7 linked regions of the Homo sapiens genome follow. The protein of the gene in region 4 purifies or fractionates together with the protein of the main gene of each other region. This does not show direct contact. Each region holds a gene or a part of one and is shown on either strand. Other genes may lie near its edges. The genes, in order: AMZ2, VDAC3, HADHB, PCCB, ATP6V1A, NDUFS1 and OGDH.

The links.
Region 1: the proteins of PCCB (region 4) and AMZ2 purify together in Homo sapiens (affinity purification with mass spectrometry; one large-scale study listed by BioGRID and IntAct). This does not show direct contact.
Region 2: the proteins of PCCB (region 4) and VDAC3 fractionate together in Homo sapiens (co-fractionation; one large-scale study listed by BioGRID). This does not show direct contact.
Region 3: the proteins of PCCB (region 4) and HADHB fractionate together in Homo sapiens (co-fractionation; one large-scale study listed by BioGRID). This does not show direct contact.
Region 5: the proteins of PCCB (region 4) and ATP6V1A fractionate together in Homo sapiens (co-fractionation; one large-scale study listed by BioGRID). This does not show direct contact.
Region 6: the proteins of PCCB (region 4) and NDUFS1 fractionate together in Homo sapiens (co-fractionation; one large-scale study listed by BioGRID). This does not show direct contact.
Region 7: the proteins of PCCB (region 4) and OGDH fractionate together in Homo sapiens (co-fractionation; one large-scale study listed by BioGRID). This does not show direct contact.

Annotation. Positions count from the first base shown.
Region 1 is NC_000017.11:68,246,662-68,250,842, reverse strand, and holds the start of AMZ2 (archaemetzincin-2), read right to left. Parts: upstream 2,801-4,181; 5' UTR 2,138-2,800; intron 658-2,137; exon of another isoform or gene 656-657; coding exon 373-655; coding exon of another isoform or gene 363-372; intron 50-362; coding exon 1-49. UniProt on the Homo sapiens protein: Probable zinc metalloprotease.
Region 2 is NC_000008.11:42,401,880-42,404,158, reverse strand, and holds part of VDAC3 (non-selective voltage-gated ion channel VDAC3), read right to left. Parts: coding exon 2,144-2,279; intron 1,207-2,143; exon of another isoform or gene 1,069-1,206; intron 849-1,068; coding exon 698-848; intron 1-697. UniProt on the Homo sapiens protein: Non-selective voltage-gated ion channel that mediates the transport of anions and cations through the mitochondrion outer membrane and plasma membrane.
Region 3 is NC_000002.12:26,251,439-26,254,938, forward strand, and holds part of HADHB (trifunctional enzyme subunit beta, mitochondrial isoform 1 precursor), read left to right. Parts: intron 1-2,808; 5' UTR 2,809-2,816; coding exon 2,817-2,880; intron 2,881-2,991; coding exon 2,992-3,036; intron 3,037-3,500. UniProt on the Homo sapiens protein: Mitochondrial trifunctional enzyme catalyzes the last three of the four reactions of the mitochondrial beta-oxidation pathway.
Region 4 is NC_000003.12:136,326,840-136,330,339, forward strand, and holds the end of PCCB (propionyl-CoA carboxylase beta chain, mitochondrial isoform 1 precursor), read left to right. Parts: coding exon 1-71; intron 72-315; coding exon 316-416; intron 417-794; coding exon 795-893; intron 894-1,918; coding exon 1,919-2,018; intron 2,019-3,065; coding exon 3,066-3,187; 3' UTR 3,188-3,330; downstream 3,331-3,500. UniProt on the Homo sapiens protein: This is one of the 2 subunits of the biotin-dependent propionyl-CoA carboxylase (PCC), a mitochondrial enzyme involved in the catabolism of odd chain fatty acids, branched-chain amino acids isoleucine, threonine, methionine, and valine and other metabolites.
Region 5 is NC_000003.12:113,778,035-113,781,534, forward strand, and holds part of ATP6V1A (V-type proton ATPase catalytic subunit A), read left to right. Parts: intron 1-706; 5' UTR 707-719; coding exon 720-801; intron 802-3,015; coding exon 3,016-3,144; intron 3,145-3,500. UniProt on the Homo sapiens protein: Catalytic subunit of the V1 complex of vacuolar(H+)-ATPase (V-ATPase), a multisubunit enzyme composed of a peripheral complex (V1) that hydrolyzes ATP and a membrane integral complex (V0) that translocates protons.
Region 6 is NC_000002.12:206,142,445-206,145,944, forward strand, and holds part of NDUFS1 (NADH-ubiquinone oxidoreductase 75 kDa subunit, mitochondrial isoform 1 precursor), read right to left. Parts: intron 2,583-3,500; coding exon 2,448-2,582; intron 1,689-2,447; coding exon 1,574-1,688; intron 388-1,573; coding exon 242-387; intron 1-241.
Region 7 is NC_000007.14:44,697,127-44,700,626, forward strand, and holds part of OGDH (2-oxoglutarate dehydrogenase complex component E1 isoform 1 precursor), read left to right. Parts: intron 1-243; coding exon 244-371; intron 372-477; coding exon 478-656; intron 657-1,065; coding exon 1,066-1,137; intron 1,138-3,014; coding exon 3,015-3,143; intron 3,144-3,500. UniProt on the Homo sapiens protein: 2-oxoglutarate dehydrogenase (E1o) component of the 2-oxoglutarate dehydrogenase complex (OGDHC). Participates in the first step, rate limiting for the overall conversion of 2-oxoglutarate to succinyl-CoA and CO(2) catalyzed by the whole OGDHC.

The sequences.
Region 1 (4,181 bases), on a different chromosome or scaffold from region 4:
AGCCATTTAATATATTCTTCACTGATAATTCTGGTGTTTCCTAGAGAGCCTACAATATGGAAGAACATTTAAAAACAGACTTTAAGATGATTATTCAGTGTTTACCCAGTCTATGAGTAAGAAGATTCAAATTAGAAACAAAACCAACTCTAAATTTTCAATAACCTTTATCATTCATTGGTGTTGCTATGAAACAAAAAGAAACAAAATGTTATCTTTTAAGTCAGTTTGGCTACAAAACTTGTACCGCCGCAATGAATATCAAAAACGATCCTAAAACGGCCCATCTGAATCAGACCCATAGCCTGGACTATTCCTGACAAGAGCGCCACTGCAAAACTGAACCAAAACCAGCACATTACCAGTATTTACCAATGGACTGTATATAAATGCTGCGTTTGTTTGGAGAGGGTGTCTTTCTGTAAGGATCACTGAAGAACTGTTCAAAGTCTTGGGGAGCCTCAGGGTGGGAGGTGATCCAATCTGATGGAGAATGCAAGGTAATGGGTCCAAAGAGATCACTGGCTGGCTGGAAGGCTTCATTCATTAAACGTTGTTCCCCAGCATTTAATTTCTCATACTGTGATACAAGCACTGGGTTCTTTGAGATGAGAGCTGTTTTTAGTGTCTGTTCGGAGTGCCGTATTATTTGCATCTAACAAAAAAAAGCAAGTAATCAAATATAAAAATACATATCTACATTGGGGACTTTACCTATCCTCTATATTTCAGCTCTGATTTCTCCCTAGAGTGAAATGACTGATTGCTAATGCTTTAGAGTGGTCACACTTAGAGTGGTTTCCTCATGTCCAATTTCTTGGAGATCTAAGAAATTAAAAAGACAATCATGAAATCCATTCCTCCATCTCATATGGAACCTGCTCCCATTACAAAAACTAGTGGTGGCCAGGTGTGGTGGCTCATGCCTGTAATTTCAGCACTTTGGGATAGGAGGATTGCTTGAGGCCAGGAGTTTGAGAACAGCTCAGGCAACATGGTGAGACCCTGTCTCTACAAAAAATTTAAAAATTCCCTGGGCATAGTTGTGCACATCTGTGGTCCTAGCTACCAGGGAGGCTGAGACAGGAGAATCACTTGAGCCCAGGAGCTTGAGGCTGCAGTGAGCCATGACTGTGCCACTGCACTCCAGCCTGGGCAAGAGTCCAAAACAAAAAAAAAAAACCTCACGGTGACCACAGGAGCAGGACCTCACACCCAACTTCCTTCTTTTGGGGAATAATATTGGCCTGGCACAGTGGCTCACGCTTATAATCCCAGCACTTTGGGAGGCCAAGGCAGAAGGATTACTTGAGCCTAGGAGTCTGAAATCAGCTTCGACATCATGGCAAAACCCCATATCTACAAAAAAATTAGCCGGATGTGGTGATGTGCACTTGTAGTCCCAGCTACTTGGCAGGCTAAGATGGGAGGATCATCTGAGCCCAGGAGGTCGAGGCTGCAGTGGGCCGTGATCGTGCCACTGCAGTCCAGCCTGGGCAATAGAGACTCTGTCTCAAAAAATAATAATATGAATTAACTCATCAGTGCCACATGAAAAATACTCATCGTTTCTAATGTGACTCAAAGATCTTCAACATCAAATAAAAACAAAACTAATGTAAGCCCTATCATTTCTGCAATTTAACTGCAGGCTGAGAAACTACAGCTTAGCCACTGAAGTTTATGGCCTCAAAGTCATGTCACATTAGGGAAGACATCAGATGACTAATCAAAAGCCAGCCTCACAATGACAGGTTTCTTCCATTCACATCGTGTTCCTATATAGAGCTTTCATCCTTCCTCTTGAATGGGTCCGATGTTCCACCACGAGGCTTTTTGAATTAAGGAAAAAGTTGAACATCTCTGTCTGGATCATCTTTGTCATATTTTCTAATTATTTAGATTTTGCCAGTTTAATGATAGACGATTGATGGGAAAACTTAAGCTAATGTCTGTTCTGATTGAACCTATAAATTCTGGGGTTGAAGAGGCTGACTAAAATTCCAGACCAAATGTCTCTGTACTCAAAGCTCTGATATAAGCATAGGCTCATCCTCACTCCTACACAACTGGGCTGAAATCTGACTTCTACAGGACAAAATATAAAACAAGATGTACCTTCCTGTAGTCTACCTACCTTGATTAGGAAGGAAGGCTCCCATGGAAGCTTTTAACTTACAAGGACGGACATGTCTGGGCCTGGCTGGAAGAAAGTTGTGGAGTGTGACTTCATCTTAATATTAAAAAGGCAGTGTGAAAGGTCAGGAGGCCTCCTCTTGCCTCCCAAGCCTAATCTAGGGAAGCTGCGGGAGAAGATGGGCAGGGGGCGCAGAATTCGGTCACTGCAGTGGGCTGGAGGCCTAGGATGCTTTGGTCCCAAAACCAGAACATCACGGGCAAACGGGAAGGAGCTGGCCACCCTGGCTGGTTGCCTATAGCAACTCGCACTGTGGGCTCTGGTCCATGCAGACACAACCCAGTCTCCAGCTGGGAGTGGAGTGGGGGTTCCCCAGGGACTCTCGCTTCGCCTCTTCTTCCCCAGGAGCCTCGGGAAAGGCCTCCCTGGCTCCCTAGAGGCACCGACCCCGCGGACCCCGCGGCTTCCGCCACGTCCGCCCCTCCTACATCCTCATCCCGCTCCACCGACCGCGACCGGCCCCCGCCTCTACGACCCGGCTACCCTGCCTAGGGGCCCCGGCCCAGCTCTGACAGCACCCGCGAACCGCCCTGACCCGACAGGCCTCGATACCACCCACCCGCGGCAGCCCTCACGCGCATGCGCACCGCGTCCCTTCGCACTGCGCCACGCCACGCCCACTGGCGCCACGCCCCTTACGCCACGCGCCGCGCCGCTGCGTCGCGCACGCCCTGTGGGCCCCGCCCAACTCACGACCCACCCATGCCACGCCCCTGAGCGTGCGGCCGCCTGGGCAGGCGCAGAGCTGGAGTTCAGCGGCCGCGACCCGCCTCTTCCAGAATAGAGGGTAGCGAGGGGACTACAAGCCCCAGCTGTCCACCCCCGCAGTCGCCGATTCCTCGCTTGCGCTCGCGGCGGCTCCGCGGCCCGGTTCTCGAGAGCCACAGATGCGCCCGCGTCGCTGGGGTCTCCCGTGTGGGAACGTCCTCGGCAGGCCGCGGGTTTGAGAGGCATCGCCGGCGTGACGAATGCAACCAGCGTGGCCCCAAATGAGTCGGCGGCCGCCGCAGGTTGACGTAGAGCCGCAGCGCTCCCCGGGGCCGTCACCCTCAGCACTTTCCCTTCTTTATTTGTTGGGGGCCGCGGGGGCTGGAACCCAGAAGCGCAAGTGTGGGGCGCGTCCTCGTGGCGTCCCTGGCGCTCCGAGGCCGAAACCCGGATGCTGAGGGGAGGCCGTGAGCTCGGAAAGGCACCGCGGGGCCGGCATTAGGGCTGAGCTAGCTCTGTACCCTCTGGTGGGACTTTCGGTCTCTCTGGGCCTCGCCATTCTCTTTCTTTTTCTTGCTTTTTTTTTTTTTTTTTTTTTTTTGGAGACGGAGTCTTGCTCTGTTGCCCAGGCTGGAGTGCAGTGGGACAGTCTGGGCTCAGTGCAACCTTTGCCTCCTGGGTTCAAGCGATTTTCCCGCCTCAGCCTCCCCAGTAGCTGGAACTACAGGTGCCCGCTATCACGTCCGGCTAATTTTTGTTATTTTTAGTAGAGATGGGGTTTCACCATGTTGGCCAGGCTGGTCTCGAACTCCTGACCTCAAGTGATCCGCCCGCCTTGGCCTCCCAAAGTGCTGGGATTACAGGCGTGGGCCACCGCGCCCGGCTTTTTTTTTTTTAATACGGGTTTTCACCCTGTTACCCAGGCTGGTCTCGAACTCCTGCGCTCAGGTGATCCACCCCCCCGCACCCCGGTCTCCCACAGTGCTGGAATTACAGGCGTGAGCCACGGCGCCCGGCCTGTTATTTTGAAGTCAAGCTATTTTACCATCCTCTGGATTTTCGTCATCCTAATTCTCCTTCCCAGTCTCAAGGAAAGACAGGCACATTTTCTTGATGACTTCAGCATTTGTAACCCCTTGTTGGCTCTCCTTAGAGGACATTAACTCTGAACCTTTCAACTTCGAGGATCTCTTTAGCCCTTCCTTATTTGTTCACTCTCCTGGATCATGAATTCTCCAAATTTGTCCTTTGAACCCAGTGCCCATATCCACCCTCA
Region 2 (2,279 bases), on a different chromosome or scaffold from region 4:
ATAACACTAATCGCCACATGGAGTGGTTGTGAGCGTTAAATGACATAATATACATAAAGCCCTTAGCACAGTACATGAAATTTAACAGCTCAGTGTTATTTTTAGTAAGAGTTACTATAGCAACAGAAATAGTCATCTAATCCCATGAATTTCCAAATAAGAAAATTCTGAGGCCAAAGTGATAAAATGACAAGGTCAGACAACAGATATACAGGAAGAGCTAGGACTAGAAGAACCCCTATTTCCTGACGTCAAGCATAATTTTTTTTTTTTTTTTTTTTGAGATAGGCTCTCGCTCTGTCACCCAGGCTGGAGTGCAATGGTGTGATCTTGGCTCACTGCAACCTCTCCATCTGCAGGGTTCAAGCAATTCTCCTGCCTCAGCCTCCCTAGTAGCTGGGACTACAGGCGTCACCTACCACGCCCACCTAATTTTTGTATTTTTAGTAAAGACAGGGTTTCACCTTGTTGGCTAGGCTGGTCTTGAACTCCTGACCTCAGGTGATTCATGCACCTTGGCCTCCCAAAGTGCTGGGAATACAGGCGTGAGCCTGGCCACATTATATTCCTTTCACTACACAATGAGCTGGCTTATTAAAATTAATAAAGAACAAGCAAACTACACTCATATCACAACATTCTCTGAAAACTTAGACACAAACATAAGAGCAGATCCAATCTGGCAGCACATTCTTACAGAGAGAGAAGTTCTACAATCCAGCATGTACTTAGCAGCAATGCCAAAACGGGTGTTGTTACTCCCAGCTGTCCAAGCAAGGTTTATGGATGTTTCAATCTTCTCATTCACCTTCTGGTAGATAGAACCTCCAAATTCAGTGCCATCGTTCCTGTTTTCATAGATAAGAAAACGTCATAAATATCTAGTTTGTACCATTGTTATTATGGTATGAAAACAAATTCTAAGACTATCTAAACAAGGATCCCATTTTGTAACTATAGATTTCAGCAAATTTCTAGCATAAATGACTACTAAACAAAACACAGAACTAAATCCAGCTATGCCAGTAATGACTGCTTAATTAAAACGTTAACACTTGATCCATTTACTTGGCTCCTCCACATGATGTGAGTTTCTTAAGACAATTCAATTAAGCACAAAGGCAGACACCTCGGGTAAGTATAATCTATAGGTCTCTGAGAAGTTCATAGAACTTAGAAACTTCAAAGTAGAGTTCAATAAAGATTCTGCAAAAAAATAAAAAGGTAGAGGTATAGGAATAAAACCAATTCTGGATTTCCTTTAAAACACAATCCTACAGTTAGAAAGCACCCTCCTACGATACCTAGGGTGCACTGCTCCAGAAAACCACCTTAGTTATTGCTTCCAAGCATGCCAGAGGTGAGTCCTTGGGTTTTCACATGGTTTTCCTGATAATACTGTTTCATCAATTTCAGTAACTGTCTATACCACTGCTTGCCTTTGTTTTAGCCATCATAAGTAAATTAGAGCATCTAGCAGAGAGGAATCTGCAACAGTTTAAAAACACATAGTTTGCCCTTTGCTTTTTCTTCCTGGTATAGTAGCAGTGTCCAGTAGGCTCAACATAAAATACTACGTAAAAGTTCTGATTCATCCCACCAACATGGTGCAGCCTACATAACTGAATCCCAGGACTCTTTCAGAGCACCTGTTACTTCTGAATGCATTAGCGGTACCTGGGTTCCAACCGAGAATACCAGTACCTGAAACCTCCACAGAATTACCGGGATGTCCCAGGATGCTCAGATCAATTTGGTGGTGGTTGTTGGTGACCAAAACAGACCTGCTTCCAGATACTGTCAAGATGAGAGGGCAGCAGAGGAAGCAGTAACATCTCCAAAGGGTCATCTTACCATGAGGTAAGCCATGCTCTGGGCTCCCTCTATCCCAGTGGTTCTTCTACAGAGGCTGGAGCTTCCTCAAGTTTGGGGTGCAGGCTGAGGGGCCAGTGACCACCAGCAGCACAGCCTGCACACCACGTGCACCAGCCTCCTGGCAAGGTTTTGCTATGAGGATAGCACCGCAAGGATGGATATTCACCAAGGCATGCTAAATCTGAGTACCATCACTTCTCAGCATGCTAATGGCTACAATATTTTGGGCAACTGCACTGATACTAAGGAATAAATTATAAACACTCACACATGTGTGTGCAGCTGGAAGTCCGCAGCCTTGTAACCCAGGGCGAAATTATTCTGTGACAGTTTGGATTTGGCTGTGTCAAAACTCATCTGATAGCCAGCAAGCCACCCTTCGAAGGCCAACACAGCCCAGCCAT
Region 3 (3,500 bases), on a different chromosome or scaffold from region 4:
CGGCCTCCCAAAGTGCTGGGATTACAGGTGTGAGCCTCTGTGCCTGGCCTAGAAAGTTTTGTTATCTGTTGCAACAAGGTTCCCCCTTTTGTTTTTCAACATTTTCTTGACAATTTTCATGAATTTTATTTCAAGATGAACCTTACGTAAGGGAACTTGTAGCCCAGACCCTTGTGGCATTGTAAGTAGCTTCTGAGTGGTGCCTCTCTCATGGGCCTCTTTGTGTTTCTCTGGCCAGAGTCCTTTGAATATCCCTAGGCTGGTGATCCTAAAGCTTGGGCTTCTCCATCTCTTTCCAATCCACATGTTTGGAACATGTTTTGTTTTTTTCTTTTCGGAAGCTATAGGACCTCCTTCTTTTAGTCTCTAAAGACCCAAGAGAAGTTAAACCTTAAAGCTTTTGTATTATCTATTTCTGTGTAGCCAATTACCGCCAAATGTAGCAGTTTAAAACAATACATGTTTACCATCTCATAGTTTCTGAAGGTCAGGAATCAAGGGCACTTTAGCTGGGTTGCTCTGAGTTTCCCATAAGGTGGCTGTCAGAATGTTGGCAGGGCTGGAGTCAGCTGAAAGCTTGCCTGCGCTAGAGGCTCCGCTTCCAAGCTCACTCACATGGCTGTTGGCAAGAGGCATCAGTTCCTCACCACAGGAGCCTCTTCATAAGGCTGCTCAGGACATGCCACCTGGCTTCTCTCATAGTGGGTGAGCTGAGAGAGAGACCACGACAGATGCTGCAGTATCTCTTATAGCCTATCTCAGAAGTGGCATACCATTACTTGTAACATACTTTTTGGTTTATACATTCTGTGATATGGAGAGGGAGGCAGCTAGACAAGGATGTGAATACCAAGAGGTAGAGATTATTGGGGGGCAACTTGGAGGCTGGCTACCAAAGTCTTTGTTGGTAAATCTTGTGGGATTTTTTTGGTTTTGATTTTTTGTTGTTGTTGTTAAAACATGCTTCAAAATTAAGAAATTATAAAAGGTGTGTGATGACAAGTCTTCCACCCCTGACCCCTAGTTACCCAGTTCCCTTTCTTCCAGCCAACAATTATTTTTAACATCTTTATTATACTTCCAGGGGGATTTTATACTGATACAAGGAAATGTACATAATATTTTTCCTCTTTTAACATGAATGATAGCATGCTGTACAGCTATTTTGCACCTTGCTTTCTTCACTTAATGATACAGCTTAAAATGGTTCCGAATTGGTGCATAATCATTTCCTTACCTTTTACAGCTGCATAGTATTTCACAGGGGTGTTGTAGCATGGTTTACTTACCCATTTTCCTATTTTTTGGTTATTCTAATTTTTGACTATTACAGTAACAATATGGATTATGTCCTGTGTGTGAGTAATATCCATGAAGTCAGTTCATGGAAGTGGAATTGCTGGTTCAAACATTAGTTTCAGTTATAGTTTTCATGGATAATTACCAAATTGCCCTCCCCATGGACTGTGCCAGTTCTCTTGGCAGCAGTATATGAGAATATCTATTTGCACATACTCTTACCTACACAGAGTATATATCAAACCTTTGAATCTTTGCTACTTTGAGAGACAATTATATCTGTGGTTTTAATTTGAATTCTTCTTATGAGTGAAATTGAACATCTTTTCATATACTTAAGAACCATTTGTATTTCCTTTTCTGTGGTCTGTTCATATTCTGTGCCTATTTGTCTGCTAGTGTTTTCCTTAGTAATCTGTAGGAACTCATTGTTAGAAATTTAGTCTTTTTTGGAGGGGTGGGGGAAAGTTGTTAATATATTTTACATATTTTTTAACATATAGGGTTATTATATGTTTTACTTTTTTATTGTTTTGAAACAATACAGTATCAAACTTTGAAAAAGTTGCAAGTGCAGTACTACAAACTTTTTTTAGTAGCAGTTGAGATTAAGTTGCTGACATGATGCTTCACCATCCCTATTTAGTGTATATTCCCTTCAGATACAAACATTCCACAAAGCCTTCTACATAATCATAGTACAGCCTTCAGAATCGTGAAACTAATACTAATGGTTTTATTATCACGCCTAGCAGTCTCTCTGCTTCTTTGACCCTAAAGGAGAGGAGCACACACTCTAGAGGTAGACTTCCTAGGTTCAAATTCCAGCTCTGGGCCTGGTGCGGTAGCTCACGCCTGTAATCCCAGCACTTTGGGAGGCCAAGGCGATGGATCACCTGAGGTCAGGAGTTCGACACCAGCCTGGCCAACATGGCAAAACCCCATGTCTACTAAAAATACAAAAAATTAGCCGGGTGTGGTGGCACGTGCCTGTAATCCCAGCTACTCGGGAGGCTGAGGCAGGAGAATCGACTGAACCTGGGAGGCAAAGATTGCAGTGAACCGAGATTGCACCACTGTACTCCAGCCTGGGCAACAAGAGCAAAACTCCATCTCAAAAAAATAAATAAATAAATAAATAAATAAATAAATAAATAAATAAATAAAAATTCCAGCTCTGCCACTCACTAGTTGTAGGTCTTTTGGCAAGTCACTCAATCCTACTATGCCTCAATTTCCTTATCTCTTACAAAGGATGTAATAATCATGCCTCCTTTGTAGGTCATTGTGAAGATTAGATGGTTAATGCTTAGAATAGTGGTTGCTGCAATGTGAAAACCATGTTGGTGTTCCTATCATAATAATATTATTAGATGAAGAATAGTTGATAAGATTAAGTTTTAATGTTTTCTAGTAGCCATGGATGAGGTTATCAGAGTTCATAGACTACAATGTAAACTACAAATTGTTCAGCTAATCCAGGATATACTTTTGTTCTTCTCTTTTTAGATTCCAGAATGACTATCTTGACTTACCCCTTTAAAAATCTTCCCACTGCATCAAAATGGGCCCTCAGATTTTGTAAGTTTATTATTATTTTTTTATTTTTAGAGATTGGATTTGGATTTATAAACATCTCGCACAGATACTGAATGGTATTGCTTTTTGTAAACAGTTTATTTTGTCTTCCAGCCATAAGACCTCTGAGCTGTTCCTCCCAGCTACGAGCTGCCCCAGGTACAGTAATTTGTAAAATAAATATTTCTGATTTAAATGTTAGATTCCAGATTCTATAGTTTGTGAACTCTGAATAAAAACCAAAACTAATTTGCTAATTCTCCCCTTTTTATGAGCACATGAACATCTCTGTTGCCTTCAAATTAAAAAATTATAGGTCCAATCAATAATGATACTACATTATTTAGGATTAGGCTTGAGGATGTTAATGGGAGGCTGTTTTCTGGGATTTGAACCTGCTGGAGTCATGGAGGTTCCATAAACCTCGTTGGTCAGTTTATTTATCCTCTTGCTGTCCGTCCTGGAGGTGAATGGCATACAAATGCTCTTGAGACCTGCTATGGAACCAAAAGTTAACTTTAAATTTGCAATTTGTGAAATGCTTCTCTATTGATGAATATCTTCTTCTCCCATGTGCAAGAGGGCCCATTCCTGAAATAGAAGTGATTAGGAACTAGTTAATA
Region 4 (3,500 bases):
TTTTGTCAGATTCTGTGATGCATTCAATATTCCACTCATCACTTTTGTTGATGTCCCTGGCTTTCTACCTGGTAAGTTTTTGACAGAGTGGGGGCTAGGAGAGTTGCCTTTCCCAGTAAGGTGCCCACTTTATTTGGAGATCTTCTTGCAGAACTCCCCGAGGACTTGTGACTTCTCCATGTATTCTGGGTGTCCAGAAGATAGGGCTGTGTAAGGAATGGCCCTCTCCAGAGGTGGGAAAGACCTCACAGCTGAGAGTGGCAGGATAACCATGTGAGGACTTGTGGGTATCTAGTAACTCTTCCTCATGTCTAGGCACAGCACAGGAATACGGGGGCATCATCCGGCATGGTGCCAAGCTTCTCTACGCATTTGCTGAGGCAACTGTACCCAAAGTCACAGTCATCACCAGGAAGGTGAGGACCTCATGTTGGAGGCCATGACCCTGCTCACTTTCCTACAGCATAGCCGTGGTGGGAGGTCTGGCAGAGTTTTACCAGGGCTGGAAGGAGTACACCTTGCTCATCCTTAAAAAGATCTCTTGAGGATGTTGTTCCCAGCCCCGCAGAAATGTCTGTGCTTTTTTAACACAGGGGAACTGAAGGCAGTAGTGGGAAAAAGCCAGAAAAGATAATGAGCATTAACTTTGAAAGGTCTTACAGACCGTGGGCCTTCAGGAGCCCAGTAGGGCTATTCTTGTTCTTTGTCCCAATTTTACCTGGTTTCCTGGGGTCTTTCAGGGACATGATCTGGCTGTCTCAGGCTCTAACACTCAGCATTTGGATCTGTTTTAGGCCTATGGAGGTGCCTATGATGTCATGAGCTCTAAGCACCTTTGTGGTGATACCAACTATGCCTGGCCCACCGCAGAGATTGCAGTCATGGGAGCAAAGGTGAGGGCCTCTTGCTTTTCCCTTTCTGGGTCCAAGGACTCGACTCTACCAGCGAGAGCTCAAGGCATAGCTGGGAAATGTTGGAGAGAGGCCAGGGCCCCTAGGTTGAGCCAGGACTGAGGTGAATGGGACCTAGACCTTGGTAAGTCTCCCTCTTGGGGCTCCAGAGATAGCTCTGCCTCCTGTCCTATACCCTTTCTTCAGGCCCACGCTGGTGTCTTCATGCCAAGGTGGGTGCGGCAGGTGAAAGGAAAGTGAGAGGGGTCCAGAGTGGTTTTGAGATTGTAAGTAAAGGGGGCAAAGGGTTGAGTCAACTGAAGTCACCTTCAGAAGTATTGGACATTCTCCCAGCTCCACCTCAGCTTCCAGGGAGGGCCCCAGAGCTACTCTTTTAAGCTCATAAGAAGCTAAACTGTAGGTCCGACCCTAGTGACGTTGGACAAGGTACTTCCTATTGCTTGACCTATTCCTCACTCCTCCCTGCTTTGAAGTAGCTATTGTGGTCGAATCAGATAACTTCCAGGTCCCCTAGAGTTGACTTATAGGTGCTCTGACTTGAAGGCCAATCCTTCTAATTTCCAGTTCAGTCTGGTCGCCTCTGGCCACCGAATTGTATACTCAGGTCTTAGGGTACCGAAAAAGGGAAATAGCACATTTAATTCCCCTTGATACAAGACCATGGATTTAATAATGGAAAACAGGGCTAACATCTTTGGCTCAAAGAAATATGATGAGTGCAAATGGAGATGGTAGAATGGGCTCTGGGGAGAGAAGCTACTGGCTTTTGCCTGACTGCCCCTTATTGGGGCCACAGGGAAGCATCACATCCCATCATGCAGCCCCTTGTGTCATGATGGTCAGCCCCAGGCAGTTCCTCCCTCTATGCTATGGCCTTTAGAGATGGCACTTCCCCTCAGTACACTGATTTACCAAGAAATTTGCACCCACACACAGTGATAATGAGTTGAAGGAGATCTGTCCAGGTTGGGACGACCAAAGATGTTCATGAACTCCTCTAATCACAGGGCGCTGTGGAGATCATCTTCAAAGGGCATGAGAATGTGGAAGCTGCTCAGGCAGAGTACATCGAGAAGTTTGCCAACCCTTTCCCTGCAGCAGTGCGAGGTAGGGGACTGTGGTGAAGAGGGCAGCTTTGTTTGTTTGGTCAACTTGCTCATTCTTTCTCTACAGAAATTGTCACATAACTGCCTTTTTGCCTTTGCAGTCTAATCTGTTGACTAGTGAGGGTTGGGACTGTCCCTGGGCAGTCATCACTTGGACTAAGGACTGTGGGACAGGCTGCTTTGGTAACCACAATTAAAACAACATTGCCAAAGTGTATTAAATTTCTAGGTGTTGTTCCAGTTGTCTAGTGCTGTGCAGAAATTCACCCTATAACTCAACAGCTTAAACTAACCACCGTTTCCCCCACTGCTTATGGTTCTGTGGGGTCCACAATTTGGTCTGGGCCCAGCTGAGTGGTTCTTGTGCTGGTCTTGCCTGGGATCACCCACACAGGTATAGTCATTCTGTGGCTTGACCGGGGCTTGACAGTCCAAAATGGCGTCACTTACTTGGTAGTTGCTGTTAGCTAGACTCACTCCCCACGTGGCCTCTCACCCTTGAGGAGGCTAGTCCAGGCTTCCTTACATGGTGTCCCGAGAGTAGCAAGGGGGCAAAGGGAAACTGAGGCCTAGATTTGGAAGTTGCACAGTGTCATTTTTGCCACATTTTATAGGCCAAGAAAACTCAACAAGGTTAAGCGAAGGAATACAAATCCACCTCTTGAAGAGAGAAGTGGTAAAGTCACATTGCAGGACTTGTGTACAAGGATGAATTGTTATAGCCATTTTTGAAAACCTAGATGTATTTTCTTTATTTCCTATTGAATTCATTGTGGCAGGATGGAGGCATTGGAGCAAGCAGGGTATAGGGAGGGTGTCCGATTTTCCTTTTCTTGCCAAGTGCTCCTAGGCCAGAAGTTGGGGAGCTGTCAGAACAGGCCAGCTCCTGGGATACAAGGGGGAATTCACAGGGCCTACCATCTCTGTATCAGGTTGGGCACTGCTTATACTGCTGGCCCCAGGGATGGTGCCCAGGCTGAGCAGAAGGTTGAGGGGTGGCATCATCTCGGGATGCAGATGATCCACTCCCTTTTCTGTGCTTCACCAGGGTTTGTGGATGACATCATCCAACCTTCTTCCACACGTGCCCGAATCTGCTGTGACCTGGATGTCTTGGCCAGCAAGAAGGTACAACGTCCTTGGAGAAAACATGCAAATATTCCATTGTAAACAAATCAAAGGAAAAGAAACCAAGAACTGAATTACTGTCTGCCCATTCACATCCCATTCCTGCCTTTTGCAATCATGAAACCTGGGAATCCAAATAGTTGGATAACTTAGAATAACTAAGTTTATTAAATTCTAGAAAGATCTCTTTTGTGCCTTACTGTAAAATTATTTACTTTTTTAAACATTTTAAGTTGTATTTTTTGAGCATAAATTCGATTTTTTTAGGTGGAAATCTGAAAAATCAATACAACTAGAAAGAAAAATAGTACACAGTGTTATCATCTAGAGCTGATTTTTATTTCACACCTCTGGG
Region 5 (3,500 bases), about 23 Mb from region 4:
GATATAATTCAGTTGTGATAAAACCATCCAGCATCCAGGAATAGGGTACTTTTAACTACATTTTAGGAATTTTGGCTGGGTTCAGTGGCTGGCTCACGTCTGTAGTCCCAGCACTTTGGGAGGCTGAGGTGGGTGGATCACTTGAGGTCAGGAGTTTGAGACCAGCCTGGCCAACGTGGCAAAACCCTGTCTCTACTAAAAATACAAAGATTAGCCAGGTATGGTCACGTGCACCTGTAATTCCAGCTACCCTGGAGGGTGAGGCACAGGAATTGCTTGAACTCGGGAGGCAGAGGTTGCAGTGAGCAGAGATCCTTCCACTGCACTCCAGCCTGGGTGGTGGAGTTAGACTCTGTCTCAAAAAAACAAACAAACAAACAAACAAAAAACTAGTTGGGCATGGTGGTACACACCTGTAGTCATAGCTACTTGGGAGGCTGAGGCAGGAGGATCGCTAGAGTCCAGGAGTCTGAGGCTGCAGTGAGCTATGACTGTACCACCACACTCCAGCCTGGGTGACAGAGAGCCTCTTAAAAATTTTTTTTAAATTAAGAAAAGGAATTTTTTTATTCTACTTTGAAGAAGTATAATAACTCAAGAATACACCAAAGATGAGAGTGGTCTCATCTTAGTGGACTACCTATATTTTGGGTCTTTTGCTTTACGGTTTATAATTATAACTTATTTATTTATTTATTTACTATAGGTAAACTAACATTATGGATTTTTCCAAGCTACCCAAAATACTCGATGAAGATAAAGAAAGCACATTTGGTTATGTGCATGGGGTCTCAGGACCTGGTAAGTAATACATCATAATCTCAAAATAAGGATATCTAACTTTGATTAATGTCTTTTCAAAATATTTTACATAGAAATATACAACTTTCTGTTTACCTGCATAAATTCTGTTTGTCCTTAGGCGATCTCATAGTGACTATAAGACCGAAGTAGAATCTCTGTCATAAGGGCTCATCTAGCATTGATTATCTAAATTTTATAATTATTGAGGTACTACTTTGTGATATCCTGTTTATAATTATGTAAATGTTCAACCAGTGTTCAGTTTTATATGTCTTAATTTTTTGTTAAATTTGAGGTAAATAAACTATGAAGTTTATAGCTTTTAATATGTAATACCTTGCATATAGCAGGCATTCAGTAAATGTTAATTTGCTTTGAACTTTAATAATTCAAACGCTCAGAGCATTTCTCAGCAATATTAGCTTTTGCCCTTTGCATTTATGAAACTTTTTGAATGGTTATTTTAAGTGTCACATTATTAACTACCTGTGGGAAAGAAGTCTTAGGACCCAAACTTTATGTCCATTCTGCCAAAACATGGAGTGCTGCTTTTTAAATAATAAATCTTACGCCAGTATTTGTTTTGTTATTGAATACTCCCACTACACAATGTGATTCACAGTCACAGTTTCTCTAAGTAAAACCTGGTCAGTGATGTATTATCCTTAAAACCTCATGCTATATAGTCTTTTTCTTGTTCTAGTTAGAGTAGTGGTGATGACAGTTTTTTGATGTTTACGCAAATGAAGACTGTCAGTCACTGTGCCTCTTTTTTCTCCCCCAAGAACTTGGTGTTTGAGCTTGATTTCATTGGCAGGTCATTAAAAGGTTATCAGTATCTTTTGCCATGCAGAGAAATAATTGTCCTCTCAATGATCATAAGGGTCTTCAGGATGGACAGACTAAACCCAAGAACCTTTAGAGAAAAGGCAAAAGAACATCAGAGAGTTTAGGAAAAAATATTCTGTGAAACTGTGTAGTAAACTGCTCCTGGAAACAATTTTTATTTTATTTTAAAAATTTTTTTAAATTTTACTTTAAGTTCTGGGATACATGTGCAGAAAGTGTAGGTGTGTTACATAGGTATACATGTGCCATGGTGGCTTGCTGCACCTATCAACCTGTTACCTAGGTTTTAAGCCCCACGTGCGTTAGGTATTTGTCCTAATGCTCTCCCTCCCCTTGCCTCCTGCAATTTTTAATTCTTAAGTACTTAATAAGGTAATGGAACAATGGCATCCTTTTTTGGCTTATGAAATATGATTTTTAAATTTCATTATCTCTGGTATTTCAGTGCATCTTAATTCTTAAGTAGTCGGCATAGAGGTAAATATTTATAGAATGAATAAGTCTTCATTGTTTTTACACAGGTTAATTAACTCATAAAGCTTTAATAGTTTCCACTGAAGTATTACCTATAACATAGTTCTAATCAGTTGTATCAGAAGGCTAAATATTAAAAATTGGTTTATTCTTACACGTGTCTAAAAATATGGCAACCTTCCTTCCCTGCTAGAAAAGTAATTTTTGCTTACTAGACCACATGGTCCAAAATAGTAAGTTCAGTAAATGGAATTCCATTGACAATTTCTTACCCAATGGTGGTGACTGATTATAAATATCCTTACGGCCTATGAAAAAAATTTTGTAGATGTGTGTGTGAGTTTTTCTAGTAGAGCTATTATTAGTTTTTGAAAAGGGTCCATGTCCCAGAAGAGTTTTAAGAACTACTGCTATAAGTTATTAGAAAGTAAACATGTTGCTTTAGGTCTGTCTCTCAAAGGAAATGGTAACAGCACAGCGAAGTGATAATTGTGTGGCATTCTACCATACTACTAGCCAAACCATTTATTCCAATTTCTACTTTTAAAAGTTTTTTTTATTGTTCCAAAGCCTTCACTCCATGTATCATAGCAACTCTCAGAACATACCTGAATCCTACCAGGTAAGTTTGCCATGCAGAACTTGAAATGTTTGAAAAGTTTTCATGTATATTATGTAAATAAATAATCTTTGGCTTACCTCTTTATATTATACACTAAAATATATATCTATGTGAAACTACCAGTATGTTCCATAGTAGGTTTTTATCCTTCTTATGAATATATGAGAGAGGCACAATACTGGGTTTATTGGGTGTTTTAATTATTTGTGACTATTCACAGAGCACTAGAGTCTTAAGTCATCAAAATAGTCTTTTGTTCTCTTCAGTGGTTACAGCCTGTGACATGGCGGGTGCAGCCATGTATGAGCTGGTGAGAGTGGGCCACAGCGAATTGGTTGGAGAGATTATTCGATTGGAGGGTGACATGGCTACTATTCAGGTGTATGAAGAAACTTGTATCCTTTTTGGCTCAATTTCCTGCCACTTTCTATATTTCAAAATTTAAGGATTTAGGCCAGGCATAGTGCCTCACACAAAGTAATCCCAGCACTTTGGGAGGCAGGCAGGTGGATCACCTGAGGTCAGGAATTTGAGACCAGCCTGGCCAACATGGTGAAACTCCATCTCTAATAAAAATACAAAAATCAGCTGGGTATAGTGGCAGGCGCCTGTAATCCCAGCCGCTTGGGAGGCTGAGGCAGGGGAATCGCTTGCACCCTGGAGGTGGGAGGTTGCAGTGAGCAGAGATCGCACCACTGCACTCCAGCCTGGGCAACAGAGTGAGACTCCATCTCAGAAAAGAAAAAAAAAA
Region 6 (3,500 bases), on a different chromosome or scaffold from region 4:
ACTTAGGCGATCTGCCTGCCTTGGCCTCCCAGAGTGCTGGGATTACAGGCGTGAGCCACTGTGCCTGAGATACTTAGTGATAAGTGGATTCCTCTATTTCCTACAACTTCTGGTTTGATCTTGGTCTATATATGAAAATAAACTGGGGGATATGTTGGAGAATCCAGGTTGTCACATTTTATACATAACTTGTAACTAAAAAAAGAAAGGAAAGCCTAGATCCTAGCTTCATATTTCTCACCCAGCTCCTGCAGTGGGGAAGACCTCTTCAGTGCATAAGGTGTCAGAGTCCACTCTATTAAGCAAATCTTTGAGAGCTACCAGGGCTTCAGCATCCACCAAGCCACCTGCAATTGCTGCCACATCTTTGCCTTGAAAACTCTGCAACTAGAAACAGATGAAAAGGGCATCACCAAGAAACCTACACGCAGCAAAGACCACAATGAAATGTTCAGAAAATAAAACAGTACTTGTTTTCAAGTACAAAAAAAGTTAACAGACTTCTGATTAAAAGTTTTACAACATGCCCAGGCACACTGGCTCATGCCTGTAATCCCAGTACTTTGGGAGGCAGAAGTGGGCGGATCACCTGCAGTCAGGACTTTAAGACCAGCCTAGCCAACATGGTGAAATCCCATCTCTACTAATAATACAAAAATCAGCTGGGCATGGTGGCATACGCCTGTATCCCCAGCTGCTCGGGAGGATGAGGCAGGAGAACTGCTTGAACCAAGGAGGCAGAGGCTGCAGTGACCCGAGATCGAGATCGCGCCACCGCACTCCAGCCTGGGCGACAACAGCAAAACTCCATCTCAAAAACACAAAAAAAGTTGTACAACAATTATTAATTAATCTAAAAGTGAAAAGCTGCAGAGGTGTTATGTGGGGCCACAGCTAATAACATCAACTTAGAAGGAAGCTGTTTTATATTTAGGAACAAAGGCACTTCAAAATGAGGTCTGGAGAATGAAGTGGAACTATAGTTACCTTAAATGCGACCTCCTCTGAAGTATCTGCCTTTCCCTCTAGTGCTTTATGTTGTCTTTCTCTAACAAGAAAACTATTCCCTCCACTTGTACTCTGGCAAGCTTATATTCATTCTCAGATTCTTCTTTAAGAATCACCTTCTGTAGGAAGGCAGCTTTTTTTTTTTTTGAGATGGAGTCTCGCTGTGTCACCCAGACTGGAGTGCAGTGGTGCGATCTCGGCTCACTGCAACCTCCAAGGAAGGCATCTTGATATGCCTGTCCTAGTTAGGCATTCCTCCTACGTGCTCTCACTCATATTACTCCTTATATAATTACTCATAGCTGCATATAATAATTGCTGAATTGTGCAACTTTCTCTACTACAAGATTGTAGGATGCAGGAATGATGTGTCTCTGGTCTTTATATCCCTTAATAGCATAATATCTAGCATATGTCCTCAGTAGATGTCTGTAAAATGGAAGGAGATTAAATCATAATCTTGGTAAAAGTAAAAAAGGGAAGAAATATACATCCCCCCCTTCATGGCAAAGATGTTTCTTGATAATCACAAACACTATTTAACACTATTTATTTCAAATTTTACCATTCCAGCTACGCGAGAGAGCGCATCCTCCCAAGAAGTATAGGTTAAAAGCCCTTTTTCATTTCTGACCATTGGCTCGGTAAGTCTTTGACGTTTTAGCCCATCATAGGCAAATCTAGAAAACAGAAATTACACCATTGTGGAATCTTGCTAAAGAAGTAACTATAATTTTCAAGTTAAATCAACAAGAAATGTTATTTAAATACAGTACTGGTTAAAGTGTCAAATATCTAAACACCTAGATACAAGTAATTATTCCAGATATTTTTAGAGATGAACTAATAGATTTTATGAACTTCACCTAAAACTAAAATACCATCTGAAAGTTTGATTTCTTCCCTTAAATCATACAAAAAAAAGTTTGATTTCTTATACTTTCAGCTAACTGAACAATCTTAAAATTACAACACAAAAAAATCTGACAGCTAAAAAAGTCAAATCATTTTTATTTACAAAGCATGAGTATCTCTAAATATTTTATCAAAATTATATTGTGCAAACTCTTCTATTCAGCTTCTTTTTCAAGCAATCATCCCACCTCGGCCTTCCAAAGTGCTGGGATTACAGGTGTGAGTCACTGCGCCCAGCCTAGCTTCTTTTCTCTAATGAACAAACTGAAATAAGTTGAGAATGTATCAATCTACTTGAATTTCTCCATGTGGGAGGAAAAAATATCTTTCTCAAAGTAAATACAATATCCAGGGATTGACCTAGGACTATTAAAGTCAGTATTATCACATTATATAAGCAACTCAGATTCCAGTAGTCTATATTCAGTAACTAATTTGCAAATATAAAAGATAATTCTTCAAAATTATTATAAAATTTCCTTTAAATAAACTGTAAAAGTTAAGGAAAACAATATAGCATATACCTGGTTTTATCAGAGATCCACTCTTCATTGATGTCCTCATGCATACGTGGCAAAATCCTCATCACTTCTCCAGTTCTTGTGCTAACCACAATATTACTTCCAACCGCATCCATTACATCAATGGATTCTGTCTTTCTGAGAAACACATACGGTGTTTACTATGGTGCTTTTGGGAATAAAGAAAGTTTCTGTTACCTGGTTTACCAAAAAATTTTTTTTACAATTAATTCCCTTTCTGAATTACTTTAAAAAATGAAGCTTAGAGGAACTGCAATTAAATAAAAGAACCCCCCACCTTTTTTTTTGCCCTGGGGTCTCACTCTGTTGCCCAGGCTACAGTGGCATGATCATAATTCACTGCAGCCTAGAACTCCTGGGCTCAAACTATCCTCTCACCACATTTTAAAAATTTTTTGTAGAGCCGGTGTCTCATTATGCTGACCAGGCTGGTCTTGAACTACTGGTCTCAAGCAATCCTCCCACCTTGGCCTCCTAAAAGCTGGGATTATAGGTGTGAGCCACTGCTCCCGGCACACCCACATTTGAACACATAAATTCCTGGCACAGTAAGGAAGGCTTTAAAACTATTATCTGACACAGAAGCTAGTTTGAAGGGGCTCCAACTAGCCAAATCTGGGACGATTCAACAAGAGGGGCAGGATTTCTGTCTATGGGAGATTAAGGAGCTCAAAAAACCTTCCCACTGAAAAGCAAAAGTAAAGCTGGCCAAAAATGACAAAACCCACCATTTCAGCAGTTTAGAAATCTAAACACATACAATGTGGGAAGCTTTTATGCACTGAAAAACTGGTGGCTGGGCTCAGTGCTCCTCCTATGCTCCTCTCCACCCCCTCAAAATGGAATTTCTTCGAGGCCGGGGCAGGCTGTGAAGATGAGAACTTCTTTGGTACAGATGGAGACAACTCACTTAACTTGGAGCACGAGGCAAACTTGTTTGTGGAGGTGATACTTTGGAGGTCATCGTAGCTGAGGATAGCCAAGATTTTACCAGCCTAAGTTTGTAGTGGTAATTGCGGCAAGCATTCCTAACAG
Region 7 (3,500 bases), on a different chromosome or scaffold from region 4:
GGTGTTTCTTTTCCGGAAGACGGTTAGAAACCGGAAGAGTCACATTGCTCTCAGGCTGAAAACCTCTGTCCCTCATTTGCTATGGGTGCTTCTGTTAAGACCTGGGTGGGGCCGACCCTGCAGCTGCCTGGCCAGAAGTCCAGGTCACAGAGCATGGCATCTGCTGGTGCTTCGTGCGGGTCCCCAGCGTATTTGCTTGTCAAGTCAGAGCTCCTAATTATTACCTCTGTTGTCCTGTCTCAGCCACCGCCACCATGTGCTCCATGACCAGAATGTGGACAAGAGAACCTGCATCCCCATGAACCATCTCTGGCCCAATCAGGCCCCCTATACTGTGTGCAACAGCTCACTGTCTGAGTACGGCGTGCTGGGTGAGTGCCTGGAGCCACACCACCAGGGCCTGTCACCCACCCACCCCCGCTGGGCCTACTGGCTGGTGTCCTGGACATGGTTTTCTCCTTCCTTTGTCCCTTGTAGGCTTTGAGCTGGGCTTCGCCATGGCCAGTCCTAATGCCCTGGTCCTCTGGGAAGCCCAATTTGGTGACTTCCACAACACGGCCCAGTGTATCATCGACCAGTTCATCTGCCCGGGACAAGCCAAGTGGGTGCGGCAGAATGGCATCGTGTTGCTGCTGCCCCATGGCATGGAGGGCATGGTGAGCCTCTGGCCCTTCCCTGCCAGACCTAGGACTTGGGAAGGGCCTGTGTAGGACCCTGACCCCAAAGACTGGCACGAGAGCCAGTGGCTCACACCAGCCTCCTAAGGACTCTGCTGGTGCTTCCCATCCATCTCAGATGGGATGTCACTTCAGAAAGCCAGAGTAGCCCATCTGGATGTGGCTAGCATGCCCCGTCCCTGCTGGTGCAGACTCCCTAGATGCACAGGCGTCCAAGTGTGGAAATGATGAGCCAAGTGCTTTGCTGGTGGGAGGGGGAAGGAACTGAACCCTGCCATCAAGAAAAAAGATAACCAGAAATGAGCTAGTTGGTTGAGGAGGAACAGCAGATGCGGCAAATGTCAGTACGCAAGAGCTCTTAAACTGTAACTTGCGTGTGTGGTTCCAGGGTCCAGAACATTCCTCCGCCCGCCCAGAGCGGTTCTTGCAGATGTGCAACGATGACCCAGATGTCCTGCCAGTGAGTAATACAGGCCCTGTCAGCCCAGCCATTCTCGGGGTGTCTGGTGGGAAACCTGGGGAAGAGCAATCTATCTGGTCATCCTGAAGTGGCAGACCGTGCCTCTGTCCCTTTCTCCATCCTGGGGAGCTCACGTGAGTGGACAGGTGTGGCCCCATGCTTCTGGGCGCCCTGGGATGAGAGACTTCCTCAGAGCACAGAGGAAGGTGCAGGGACTGCCTCCATTGGCTTCCTGCTGTTGCTGCAAGCACAGAAACGCCATGTGAGCTCCTCAGCAAGGGCTCCTGCGGGATGCTTCCAGACCCTGATTCAGGTCTGGAAGCCCTGAGGAGGAGAGAACTTTGGGGCGATTCCAGTGAAACTTTAAGAACTCAAAGAACCAGCCTGGGCAACATGGTGAGACCCCGTCTCTACAAAAATTTTAAAAAGTAGCTGGGCGTGATGGTGCACGCCTGCAGTCCCAGCTACTTGGGAGGCTGAGGTGGGAGGATTGCTTGAGCTTGGGAGGTCAAGGCTGCAGTGAGCCAAGATCGTGCCACTGCACTCCAACCTGGGTGACAGAGCAATACCCTGTCTTAAAAAAAAAAAAAAAAAGAACTGTGCTGGGTGTGGTGGCTCAAGCCTGAAATCCCAGCACTTTGGGAGGCCCAGGCAGGCGGATCATGAGGTCAGGAGTTTGAGACCAGCCTGGCCAATATGGTGAAACCCTGTCTTTACTAAAAATACAAAAACTAGCTGGGCATGGTGGCGCCCACCTGTAATCCCAGCTAGTCTGAGGCTGAGGCAGGAGAATTGCTTAAACCCGGGAAGCAGAGGTTGCAGTGAGCCAAGATTGTGCCGCTGCACTCCAGCCTGGGCAGCTCCGTCTCACAAAAAAAGAACTGGCCAGGCGCAGTGGCTCACGCCTGTAAGCTCAACACTTTGGAGGCCCAGGCAGGTGGATCACGAGGCCAGGAGTTTGAGACCACCCTGGCCAATATAGTGAAACCCCGTCTCTACTAAAAATACAAAAATTATTCAGGCGTGGTGGCGGGCACCTGTAGTCCCAACTACTCAGGAGGCTGAGGCAGAGAATCGCTTGAACCCGGGAGGTGGAGGTTGCAGTGAGCCAAGATTGCGCCACTGCACTCCAGCCTAGGCGACAGAGGGAGACTCCTGTCTCAAAAAAAAAAAAAAAAAAAAAAAACTCAAAGAAAATGATTAGGTGTCAGTGTCTAAGGAAAATTGGTTTTAGGTAGAACTTGTGTCTCTTAAAGTGGTATTTGTTTCATGCTGGGCAATAGCTTTCAGAGAAATAGTATGGATTGAGTGGGACTGAGGCTCTCCTCCAGGGTATGAGGCTGGCCGAAGGAGCTTGCTGGACTCACTTGTTAGTGTCAGCTTATGTCTCCTGGGGAGTCAGTGTGTTAGGCCATTCTTGTGTTGCTATAAAGAAAAACCTGAGACTGGGTAATTTATAAAGAAAAGTTTAATTGGCTCACAGTTCTGTAGGCTGTACAGGAAGCATGATGCTGGCATCTGCTCAGCTTCTGGGGAGGCCTCAGGAAGCTTACAATCATGACAGAAGATGAAGTGGGAGAGCAGGCATGTCACATGGCCAGAGCAGGAGTAAGAGAGTGGGGGAGAGGGGCCACACACTTTCAACAACCAGATCTCGTGTGAACTCAGAGTGAGAGCTCACTCATCACCAAGGGGATGGCCCAAGCTCTAATCCTAACACCTCCCACCAGGCCCCACCTCCAGCAGTGGGAGATTACAATTCAACATGAGATTTGGGCAGGGACAAATATCCAAACTAGATCACCTGAGGGCCCCCACATGCCCCAGAAGACTCAGTGCTGTGTCCTGGCCTCTGGCCATTTCCTTCCCTGCTGCAGGACCTTAAAGAAGCCAACTTCGACATCAATCAGCTATATGACTGCAATTGGGTTGTTGTCAACTGCTCCACTCCTGGCAACTTCTTCCACGTGCTACGACGCCAGATCCTGCTGCCATTCCGGAAGCCGGTCAGTGGCAGGGCCTCCCTTGCTCAAACGAGGCCTGGCCCTGCCCTGTTGGTGCAGGGAAGGGCTCCTCAGAGAGCCTCTTGCTTGGGGTTAGCTAGGTGGGCACCTGCAGGGGTAGTGTGGACAGGACATGGTGTCAGGGAGCCTCGCCCTTCCTCCTCACTGCTGCCATGAGGGAACTGCGTGTTCTGTGTGTCCTCTTCCCCGACTGGGCCCCTGCATACTGCTGAGCACCACATGCGGAGCAATCACATAGGCTGCAGGCCCCAGCCCGGTGGGGAGGACGGATGTTTGAACAGGTGGTCATAGGGGGTGTGCTGAGCTCTGGAAGAGAGGTGAGCCCTGGCAGAGGCCAAG